Linked DNA regions of Homo sapiens. The protein of the gene in region 3 purifies or fractionates together with the protein of the main gene of each other region. This does not show direct contact. Each region holds a gene or a part of one and is shown on either strand. Other genes may lie near its edges.

Region 1 (3,396 bases), on a different chromosome or scaffold from region 3:
TCAGCTTAGGTTTCTGGTGAACTTCTTTCATACGAATGTTGCTGTTTTACCTCACACTATGTTAACAACTCCAAGTTTCCCCAAATTTTCGTTCCACTTAGTTTTAAATGCAAAACAGACTTGGTTGTAGATAGCCAAATATTACGTGCGCACGCACACACACACGCACATACACACACACAACCCCCCCCCCCCCACCCCGCCCCTGACAGAGGGTGTTCCAGTCATTCCTTAGCCTTTGTTCACTTCCTAACATGCCAGCAGGCTCCTTCTGCCTCAGGGAAGACACAGACACTGTTTGTCTGACTGCAATCCTGTTCTCTTTGCCTGGTGGACTTCTCCCACCAGTATTCTAAATGTTCCAATCACATGCTGATTCCCTTTATAGCACTCACCACAGTAATTATTGAAATAAAGATGGTAAAACCTTAATTTCATCACCTTTTCTTTCCCCTGCCCAACTCCCAACACACCAAAAGGTTTACATAAGCACTACTAAGTAAGAGTGGCAAAATTTTTAAATTTAGAAATTTATTCTGTTTAATCCACAAGCTTTATATAGCTTTAGTTTAAAAAAAATCAAAACAAAAAAAAAATCAAAACAAAAACAGTGAAACCAAGACACTATTCCAAAGTCTGGGCCCTTCCAGCCTTCCAAATACAAGAGGCTCTGAAAGTTGTATATACCAATTGGAAGAACAAGACAAAAATATGAACAGAGCCATGACATTTCATTAAACAAATTGTATGTAACTGAAGGATCCTTTCTGGGACTAGCTCATTGCCTTTACAAAAGAAAAAAAACAAAACAAAAAAAACAAAACCAGAATAACAGAATGAGAGTCCAGTGTTCCAAATCAACTTGTTACACATCAATATAAACCCACAGTGTCCTGGCAAACAACATGCTTTCATTTTCTGTCTCATCCTAGAGCTCGAATCCTGATTCATTTCAGCAGAGACTCCACAGGCAACAGGAAAGATTGTGGCATTAAAATATTCATTTATACTTTTGTGGTAGTTCAAAACAGTGGTCTTATTTCTGGGCAAGCTTACAGACCATACAAGGTCAGAAGCATAACTTAAATGGGAGCTAAGACTCAAATGAAAAAAATAAGAAGAAGAAAGAAAAACAAAAAGAAAATCAAAACCAAAAAAACAAACAAAAAAACCCCTCTGGGAATAGCTAGGGCATTTAAAGGAACCATAAAAATGCCAACAGTATTTAAACCCCCTTTTTTAAAAAGGGAATTTTTTTTTGGCTTAAAATATTTCACTCAATGAATTATGTCAGCTGTCAATGAAAGAATGTCACTAATACACTGTGGACACCTTTTGCAATGTAAATCCATGCCCCCTTTTTTTACATGTTGAACTTCAACCTAGCAATTATTACAACAAATGTTATAGTCTAAAGCTCAAACACATTTTAGCAATTTTGAAATTGAACTGCGTACAAACCAAATAAAATTTACATCATAACAAACATTTCCCCCTAAGACTGTGGGGACACTTGGGCCTTCCTCATTGATCTCAGGGCCTTTTCACGCAGGTGCTTTTCTAAATCATCAAGGTTATCTTCAGCTTCACTTTCAGTCTCCTAAAAAAAACAGAATTTACACGGTTAAGTCTTGAGACCCTGGTGGGAAATGCCGAGTAAAGAGCAGAATCAAAGTGTGGGAGGGGAACATCACACACCGGGGACTGTTGTGGGGTAGGGGGAGCAGGGAGGGATATACCTAATGCTAAACGACGAGTTAATGGGTGCAGCACACCAACATGGCACATGTATACATATGTAACAAACCTGCACATTGTGCACATGTACCCTAAAACTTAAAGTATAATAATAATAAAATTAAAAAACAAACAAAAAAAAAAACCAACCTCACAAATCTTTTGAGTACTGAACTGTATGCAAATATAATGGCCACTGTGGATAGTTAATATTTTAAATAAATAAGTCACCTTTATAAAAAAAAAAAGTGTGGGGATCGCTGCACAACTGATATACTAAAACCCAGGGAACCACAAACTTTAAATGGGTGAACTGTATGGTACGTGACTTTTATCTCAGAGTAACTGGCTAATTAGTAGAAAAAACAATTTTGCTACTTCTCAAAACAAAATGACTTTGCTATCTGTACGTAAACTGCAAGACAGCCATATACAGAGTTCATAAATACCTTCTTCGGCTCTGGCGCTGCCACTGGCTCTTCCTGTGCTAATGTGGTTGTGGCAGCTGCAATGGCTGCAGGGGTCACAGCAGCTGCAGCAGCTGCAGCCACAGCCTTTTCCTTCTTGTGTTTTTTGTGCTTCTTGTGCTTCTTATCCTTTTTGTGTTTCTTGTCCTTCTTTTTCTTCTTTTTCTTTCCACCTCCTTCCTGATCTGAATTCTAGGAAGAAAAAAAAACAACACCCAGCATTTATAATCAATCTGATTAATATTCTGTCCAACTGAACATTTTATTTCCTCAAATCCCCAATGGACAAATCTCAAGATTTCCGAAAGGCTTTGGAGGGTGTGAGTGGGGAAGGCCCAAGGCCAATTATCACCAAGAAAAGTATTCAAAAGTCAGGGGCTATCTCCAGGATGAGCTCAATTCCAGCTCCTGAACTATTTGACCTTAGACAAATTGTTGAACTCTTTCTGAGACCTTTTTACCTAAAATAAGTGTAATAATCCCTACCTGATAAAGCTCTTGTGAAAATTAAATGAGAATATCTGTAAATCACCCATAATACTTGCCTAACATGTAGCAGACTTTTAATAAATGGTACCAGCCATTAGTCTAAACACATGCCTGTATGAATGCCATGTCTCTAGCTACCATCTGAGCTCTCCTATCTTTAGAGTGGGGATGACTGGTTCTTCCTCATGACACACATACCAAATTTATGCAAAAAGCAGGCTCCTATAATTTAATCCATAATATTTCAATTTCACACTTCTAAGCAATTACTTAAAATTCCTCACAAGTTAGCTTGCACAACTATTCAGTCAACCCAATTAAATATGGACATCTGAGGCCACAGCAGGAGGATCACTGGAGGCTAGGAGTTCAAGATCAGCCTGGTCAACACAGCAAGACCCTGTCTCTACAAAAAGTTAAAAACAAAAAACCAGCCAGGTGTAGCAGCATGTGCCTATAATCCCAGCTACTTGGGAGGCTGAGGCGAAGGGATCACCTGCGTCCAGGAAGGCTGCTGTGAGCTATGATCATCCCACTGCACTCAGCGTGGGTGACAGCATGAGACCCTGTCTCAAAAACAAACAAAAAACAGATGGACACCTAACCACTGATTTTATGCAATACAGAAACCTGCCCAAGATCAGATGTATAACTCACAAATGGGAAAAAAAGTTTAAACACCAATATTTTAATGCCCCAATGA
Region 2 (3,656 bases), on a different chromosome or scaffold from region 3:
CAAAAATCTTGCTCTGATCCCTTATCTTCTTCCAGCTACTACCCCATTTCTTTACAGACATACATACTAAAGAAAAACCAAACACCATGACCACCACTACAGAAACCTCAATGGGGAATATGTCTCCTCTTCCCGCCCTTTGCTGTTTCTTAAGTTCATTCTATTTAAACTTTTGTCTTCACCAAACCACTGACCTCCAAGTTACCAAATCTAATAATCAATTCTCAGCTTAATCTCTACTTATCAACAAGCATTTAACACATTTCTTTCTTGAAATACATTCTCCTTGGCTGCTCCTTCTCACTGTCCTTTGCTAGACAATCCTCATCTTCCTAATCTTTAATCGTTGGTGTGTCCCAGAACTTGATCCTAGGACCCTATTTCCACCTACACTCACTTTATAGTTAATATCATCCTGCCCCTACGGCTTTAAACATCCTGTTTTATAACTCCAAATCAGCCAGGAGCGGTGGCTCACGCCTGTAATCCCAGCACTTTGGGAGGCCAAGGCAGGTGGATCACAAAGTCAGGAGATTGAGACCATCCTGGCTAACACAGTGAAACCTCGTTTCTACTAAAAATACAAAAAATTAGCCAGGCGTGGTGGCGGGTGCCTGTAGTCCCAGCTACTCAGGAGGCTGAGGCAGGAGAATGGCATGAACCCAGGAGATGGAGCTTGCAGTGAGCCGAGATCGTGTCACTGCACTCCAGCCTGGGTGACAGAGTGAGACTCCATCTCAAAAAATAAATAAATAAATAAATAAATAAATAATTCCAAATAATTATTTGCAGTTCCATTTCTCCCCTTCAGACTCCCATTCACGCCTTTCCTGGGACCTGATGGACTTGATCCCTTGCTCCATTTAGGTCTCTTCTCAAATACAACTTAATGAACTCCCAAAAATGTTGTCAACCACTGTATCTAAGACTACACCTTCCATCCTCCAGCCACTTTCTACCTCTTCCCTCTGCTTTATTTCTTCTGCCTACTTAACACCTCCACTTGTACGTGAATTTAATATGAGAAAAAGACCTCCAAAGAATTTTCACCTTTCCCTCCAAACCCAATCTTTCTTCAGTATTCCCGTATTTGTTTAAATCAAAACTGCAGAGGTATTATTTACTCCTCATACAATATATTACCATTCCTCATACTCTTCACTCAATCCATCATGAAATGCCAACACCTCTATATGCTTAAAACATTTTCCAAATCTAACCATTTAATCAGACCTTCCACTGCCAGCTTCTCTAATACAACCCATGTTCATTTCTCTACTGAAAAGATTATAGCAGCTGTTCTCCCTGCTTTTATACTCTTACCTCCTGTGGTCTAGTCCCAACAAAACAGTCCAATAATCTCTTCAATGTTTCTTTTCTGTTGAGATCCCTTTACTGGCTTCTCATCACATTTACAGTAGGTCAAGTCTTTACAGTGGTCTACCAGCATGTCTGACCTCCCCTGAGATCTCACCTCATACCCTCTCCCCCTTCATTCACATCATCCCCATCACATGAGCCTCTCTTTAGTTTCCTAAGTAAGCTCGGCCATTTCTTCCTCAGAAACTGTTGAGTCACAAAAAAAGACTGACAGAAACAGCAATTAACGTGTATAAAGGATGAGAGTCTGCCAGAAAGACTGGATGACAAGAACAAAATGAATTAAAATTAAGTTCTACCACTTCTTGTCCATGTAAAATAAAAGTTGCTGATTTTTAAAAGTAATCAAATTCCTTCATTTGTGACAACAACAAAAAATATGGAAACCACTGCTTCCCTCAGGCTCTAGAGACAACTAAAGTAAGAACCGATTCCAAATATCTGTCACCTGGTAGATGCCACAATGTTGCTCCCTTCCCTCCATCATATAATTATTTTCTCAAAGACAACAAGCACATAGTAGCTCAGTGAATGATTCTACTTAATTTTCAAATCTATAGAACTATTTTCTTTAAAAATGGAAGTTATTCAGTCACTAATAAATCATGCTATATTATGTCCTTAGTGCATAAGGCAAATACCACTGGCCTATATATTCCTATTTTTTTTTTCTATTATGCCCAATAAATTTCATAGCGTTGTAATAGTAGAAAACGTTGGCGAAGACTTTTATATTTGATCTCAATAATTTTTACTATCCTAGAGATCCATCTATATATTTTTAAGAGAACACACTGACAACCTTGAAGTAGCTTAGTTATATGGATGAGAGCTTTAGGAATTTTCTTTTGATGCTCTTGACTGGCTTAACCAGACTACTTAGTCAGAGAGCTAGTAGATATTATAAAGATTATTAAAAAATATGGTTTAAAGGATCAAGACAACTTTTACTTCTGACATGGAATAGGTAGGAAAGTCAGCCATTCAGTCAATTAACTAAATGCAGTTAAGTTACAGGAATAAGCGTACATGTTCAAAAGCAGCTTTCGATCAGCTTCTGCATATGATGTTTTACGTGGCACTAAGGAACGACTTTGCTCTGAAACTTCAATTCCTAAGGTGAAATACATTTTATTTCAAAAGATATGAAAAAGAATCATCATGCTTTCAGCAAACGTGATATATGTTGTATAAGCCAAACACTAAGGAGGAGTATTTCAGGAAAGCACTATTAAGACGCTAAAAATAAGTGCATATTACAATCTCACTGACTTTTCCTGTCCTTGTTTCCTAGAAGCCCAGAGTGCTGCCCTAAAGCTACTATGTCTCATGTACCCAATCTCTCCATATATGTAAGTCTACTTGTTATTTTTAGCACATTTGTCAGGGGCAGCTGTTGAAGAGTAGAAGGAAAAAAACAAGAAAGAACACAGTCATGCATGATGGGACAGGAGAAGGGTAGCAAAGAACAGACTGAACATAATGTTCGGTCAAAACATCTAGCGGTGAGGGGAAAAAAAAGAAACCCCAACGACACTGAGGAGAAAAAAGTTGTGGCTACTGATAACAAAAATGATGATCTATCCCTAGTTTTCCAAGTTCCCTAGGAACTGCAAAATTGATGTAAGGTTTATTAAGCACAAAACAAACTCAAAACAGCTGTACTAATATTCTGCAGTGAAAAAGGAGAATCAATAATCAACAACCTCCATTCTGGTAGGTTGCCTTTAAAAATCAGCACTGTCTCATTTAAAACCAATACTTTAAAAATGTTATTTATGCTGCAGGCATCTCTTTTGCTAAATCCTTTATATTTAATCATCATAACCCTATGGTGCAGGCATTTAATGCCCCCACTTAATGGATGAACTTAATCTAAAACTTGGTTTTCTCAAAACCTCACAAATAAGTAGCAGAAACAGGATTCAAATCCAGCCTGACTTCAGAGTCCAAGCTCTTACACATTCCACCTGTCTTGTTACCTTAATTCTTTTGTTCTTCTATCAACTAGAAACTTTGGCCATAAGGGTTCCCTATTATAGGCATGGATCACGTGGTTTTGCTTTTAGAAGTGTTACCGGAATGACTGCTTTGAAAAAACAGACTGAAGGCCTTGCCTCAGCTTTTGTAGCATCAGGAAGCCATAAGCAAGGTTTCTGGCAGCTGATGTTGGAGGAGGAGGAGGAAGAGGAGGCAGAGAAGGACGGAAGGGTGAGGATTGCTGAAGAGAAGTCTCAGTTGCAATTTTACCTGTATTCTGTTGGGATGGGGTAAGA
Region 3 (3,656 bases):
CCATTTTTTTTTAACCCTTTCCTTACTTTCTGATGCAACAAGATATCCCAGGTTCATCTTGCATGGGCTGAGACCTGGAATCGGTTGTTTATCCAAAGAGCTTTTGTTCCTTTTAGAGGGTAATAGTGTTTAGAGATCACAACTGGGCATATAATTTATTACTTTTTTGAAAGGTAAGGTGATTTAAAATAGTGTCTTTGCTCCAATGAGAAGAATATATTGGGACCTCTCTTAAATTTCCTGCTCCTATATTCCCTAGATTTTTATATTACAGTCATTTTGGTGTTTATGCTATAATTACAGTAATAGCTACCATTTATTGTGTGCTTAGTGTGTAACTGATGCTACAATGTCTTTGACATTGTCTATTTTTCCCTCATAAAAAAATCTTATAGCTATTTTTACTTCCATCATATAGATGAAGAAATGGTGGTTCAGAGTGTAAACAGCTTACCCAAGGCCACAGAGCTGAAATTTAAGCTGGTCTGTGCAACTTTTTCTTACGCATATGTTCAGCTAGGAACATTAGATGTGAAGAAACCCAGTACTTAGATTTTAGAAAGTTTTATTCTTAATGGAGAATATAGCTTTTGTAAAATTTTAAATGAAATTAGGTACAAACTTGAATATAGTTAGCATTCATACATCAGATTTCATTGGTGACTATTGGAGAGGCTAAAAGCACCCATGAAGAAATTCAGATGGGACCAAGCAGGGAGTAATTTGCCAGTCTCAAAAATGCTGTTTTAAGGAGCAGTTAGACTTGTAGTTATGGAAATTACAGTGTAGAATGGTGGACTTTTAGCATCAGTCTTTAGCATTAGGCTTGTAAGAGATGCTCTCTCAAGTGGCATCCCTGACGCTGGTCTCTTACTCTTCATAGTGTTGTCCAGTGTTTACCATCTTATTAGTTCCCTATTGTCTACTAATAAGAATCCAAATTCCTTAGCTTGACATTCAAGGTTCCCCCCCACCCACAGCCCACTCATGTGAGTCATCTCATTAAAAGATCCTACAGTGTTGTTTCATCGTATGTTTGAAAGACAGCTGCTTACCACATTTATTACCTAGAATATTGTAAAACTTATTCATTGAGCTAAAAATGTACTCTCAGAGAGTGTAGGCATCTGCAGGTGTCTTCATATAATTGCTCTGAAATGTGCAGCAGGTTAACTTTTCAGTCATCCTTTAGCCTGTGACTACTAAGCATATACACACACACACATATATGAGTACTTTATCAATAATTTGTAATAAACTCATTTCAGGCAAAGAGCTTCTTCAAGAACTTGATTGTTATGTCTCAGTTTGCAAAGTGAATGGAATGTCTAAACACATACAAGTCTTGGTGTTGATTCCAAGTACAGCAGCTTATTTGAGAGTCTGAGACTAGAGCAGTAGTCAGTTGATTAAGTCTAGGGTGTTATTGGGACCACCCTTCAGGTAATCCAGCCTACAGTTTCCCCTCAGGCCCATGCTTTTCATCTTAGTAGGTGTAGGCTGCTAGGCAAGGAAAACTTAAAGTGATGATCTCTGCATTCTCAGCTGGCTTTATCCTCTTTCTTTGGTTTGTTTAATGTATTCGTCTTACCAGTCATAGCTATGGTTTTACCATTCTAGCCATTCTTCAGTACATGCACAACACACATCCATATACATTCCTACGTTAGAGATAACATTTTTAGTCATTTTCCTTTATTAGTGACTTCATTCAAAATCCCATGGTATACAATTTCTGTTGTCTTTATTCTAAGGCTTCTGCCCATAGTGAGAGACTGAGTCAGTAATCCAGTAATCTGTAGATTCAGTTCAATCCCAGTCAAAATCACAGCATGGTATTTTGTAGCTATCTGTCAACTAGTTCTAAAATGGATATGAAGAGACCAGAGAGTTAGAATGGCCAAAATATGTTTGAAAAAGGAGAACAAACTTAGAATACCTGATTTCAAGACTTAGTATAAAGCTATAGGAATTAATACAGTGTGATATTGCCAGAAAGATAGACAAACAGATAAATAGTCTATACATGGTTAGTATATAGGTGAAAGGTAATTCAGTGGATAAAATACAGTATTTGTAGCAAGTGGTACTAGAACAATTGGACATCTGTATGCAGAAAAACCCAAAACCAGTTTTAATTCCCACTGTATAAAAATTGACCCAAATGGGTATCATATGTAAATGTAAAATATACAATAATACTTTCAGAGGAAAACATAGGAGGATATCTTGTGTTAGGCAGAGTGCTTAGATAGGACTCTAAACCATAAAAGGAAAAAAGATACATTTTGAGAAAGACCAGTTCAGAACTTTTCTCTGCAAAAGACACTGTCAAGAGAATTCCAAGACAGTACCTCCAAGTCAGATATCTGAGAAAGAATTAACATCCAAAATATATAAAGACCTCTCAAAATTCAACTATAAGAAAACCAATAAGTTCATTTAAAAATGGGCAAAAGGTATCAACAGACACTTTCACCAGAAAGCTATACGCATCTGAAAAGAATGTTCTAAAAAAAGAGAAACCTTTACCACATTCAGAGCAGTTGAAACTCTTTTTTTTTTTTTCTCTCTTTTTTTGAGACAGAGTTTCGCTATTGTCCAGACTGGATTGCAGTGGCGCAATCTCAGCCCACTGCAACCTCTGCCTCCCAGGTTCAAGTGATTCTCCTGCCTCAGCCTCCTGAGTAGCTGGGATTATAGGCACCCACCACCACAATATATATATATTTTATATAATACAATTTTTTGTATTTTTAGTAGAGATGGGGTTTCACCATGTTGGCCAGGATGGTCCTGGACTCCTGACCTCAGGTGATCCACCCACCTCGGCTTCCCAAAGTGCTGGGATTACAGGCGTGAGCCATTGCGCCTGGCCAAAACTCTTCTGCATTAGTGGTGGGAATGCAAGATAGTATAGCCACTTTGGAAAACAACTGGCAGTGTCTTTATAAAAATTAAGGTCATATTTACCTTATGTTTCATCATTCACACTACAAAATATTTGCCCAAGAGAAATGTTCACACAGAAACCTGTCTGAAAATGTTCATACCTGCTTTATTCATAATTGCAAAAAACCAGAAACAACTCAAATGTCCTTCAGCTGTTGAATGGATAAGCAAACTGATATATCCATACAATGGAATGCTGCCCAACAATGAAAGTAAACGAAGTATTGACATGTGCAGCAGAGTGAGTGACTCTCAAATCCATTATGATGATAGAGGCCAGACCGTAAGATTCCATTTATGTGACATTTTAGAAAAAGCAAATCTTTTGGTTGGAGAACAGATCAGTGGTTACCAGAGGCTAAGAAGGTAAGGAGGGTTTGATTACATGGAGCAGCACAGGATGATGGAGTGATGGAGCTTTTCTGCATCTTCATTGTGATGGTGATACACGTATCAAAACTCTCACTGTATGTGAAACGAGGATTTTTACTGTATGTAAATTTTAAAATACCTTATATGTAAAAGATACAAGTTTTTCCATGAATATCCTTTCATATTTTAGGGTATGTGTCTCTGTGGTGAATGAAATGCTATCCTTTAAATAGTACTTCTCAGGTGACATGCAAGTAGTATAAGCCTGAAGTTTTTCATTTTTATCCCTCAGGTGTTGAAGTGCCATCAAAAGACTCTTTGCCAAAGAAGAG

Evidence for each region.
Region 1: the proteins of EIF5B (region 3) and SRRM1 fractionate together in Homo sapiens (co-fractionation; one large-scale study listed by BioGRID). This does not show direct contact.
Region 2: the proteins of EIF5B (region 3) and YBX3 fractionate together in Homo sapiens (co-fractionation; one large-scale study listed by BioGRID). This does not show direct contact.

Annotation. Positions count from the first base shown.
Region 1 is NC_000001.11:24,670,386-24,673,781, reverse strand, and holds the end of SRRM1 (serine/arginine repetitive matrix protein 1), read right to left. Parts: intron 2,397-3,396; coding exon 2,187-2,396; intron 1,601-2,186; coding exon 1,496-1,600; 3' UTR 501-1,495; downstream 1-500. UniProt on the Homo sapiens protein: Part of pre- and post-splicing multiprotein mRNP complexes. As a component of the minor spliceosome, involved in the splicing of U12-type introns in pre-mRNAs. Involved in numerous pre-mRNA processing events.
Region 2 is NC_000012.12:10,706,278-10,709,933, forward strand, and holds part of YBX3 (Y-box-binding protein 3), read right to left. Parts: coding exon 3,631-3,656; intron 1-3,630. UniProt on the Homo sapiens protein: Binds to the GM-CSF promoter. Seems to act as a repressor. Also binds to full-length mRNA and to short RNA sequences containing the consensus site 5'-UCCAUCA-3'. May have a role in translation repression.
Region 3 is NC_000002.12:99,364,877-99,368,532, forward strand, and holds part of EIF5B (eukaryotic translation initiation factor 5B), read left to right. Parts: intron 1-3,616; coding exon 3,617-3,656. UniProt on the Homo sapiens protein: Plays a role in translation initiation.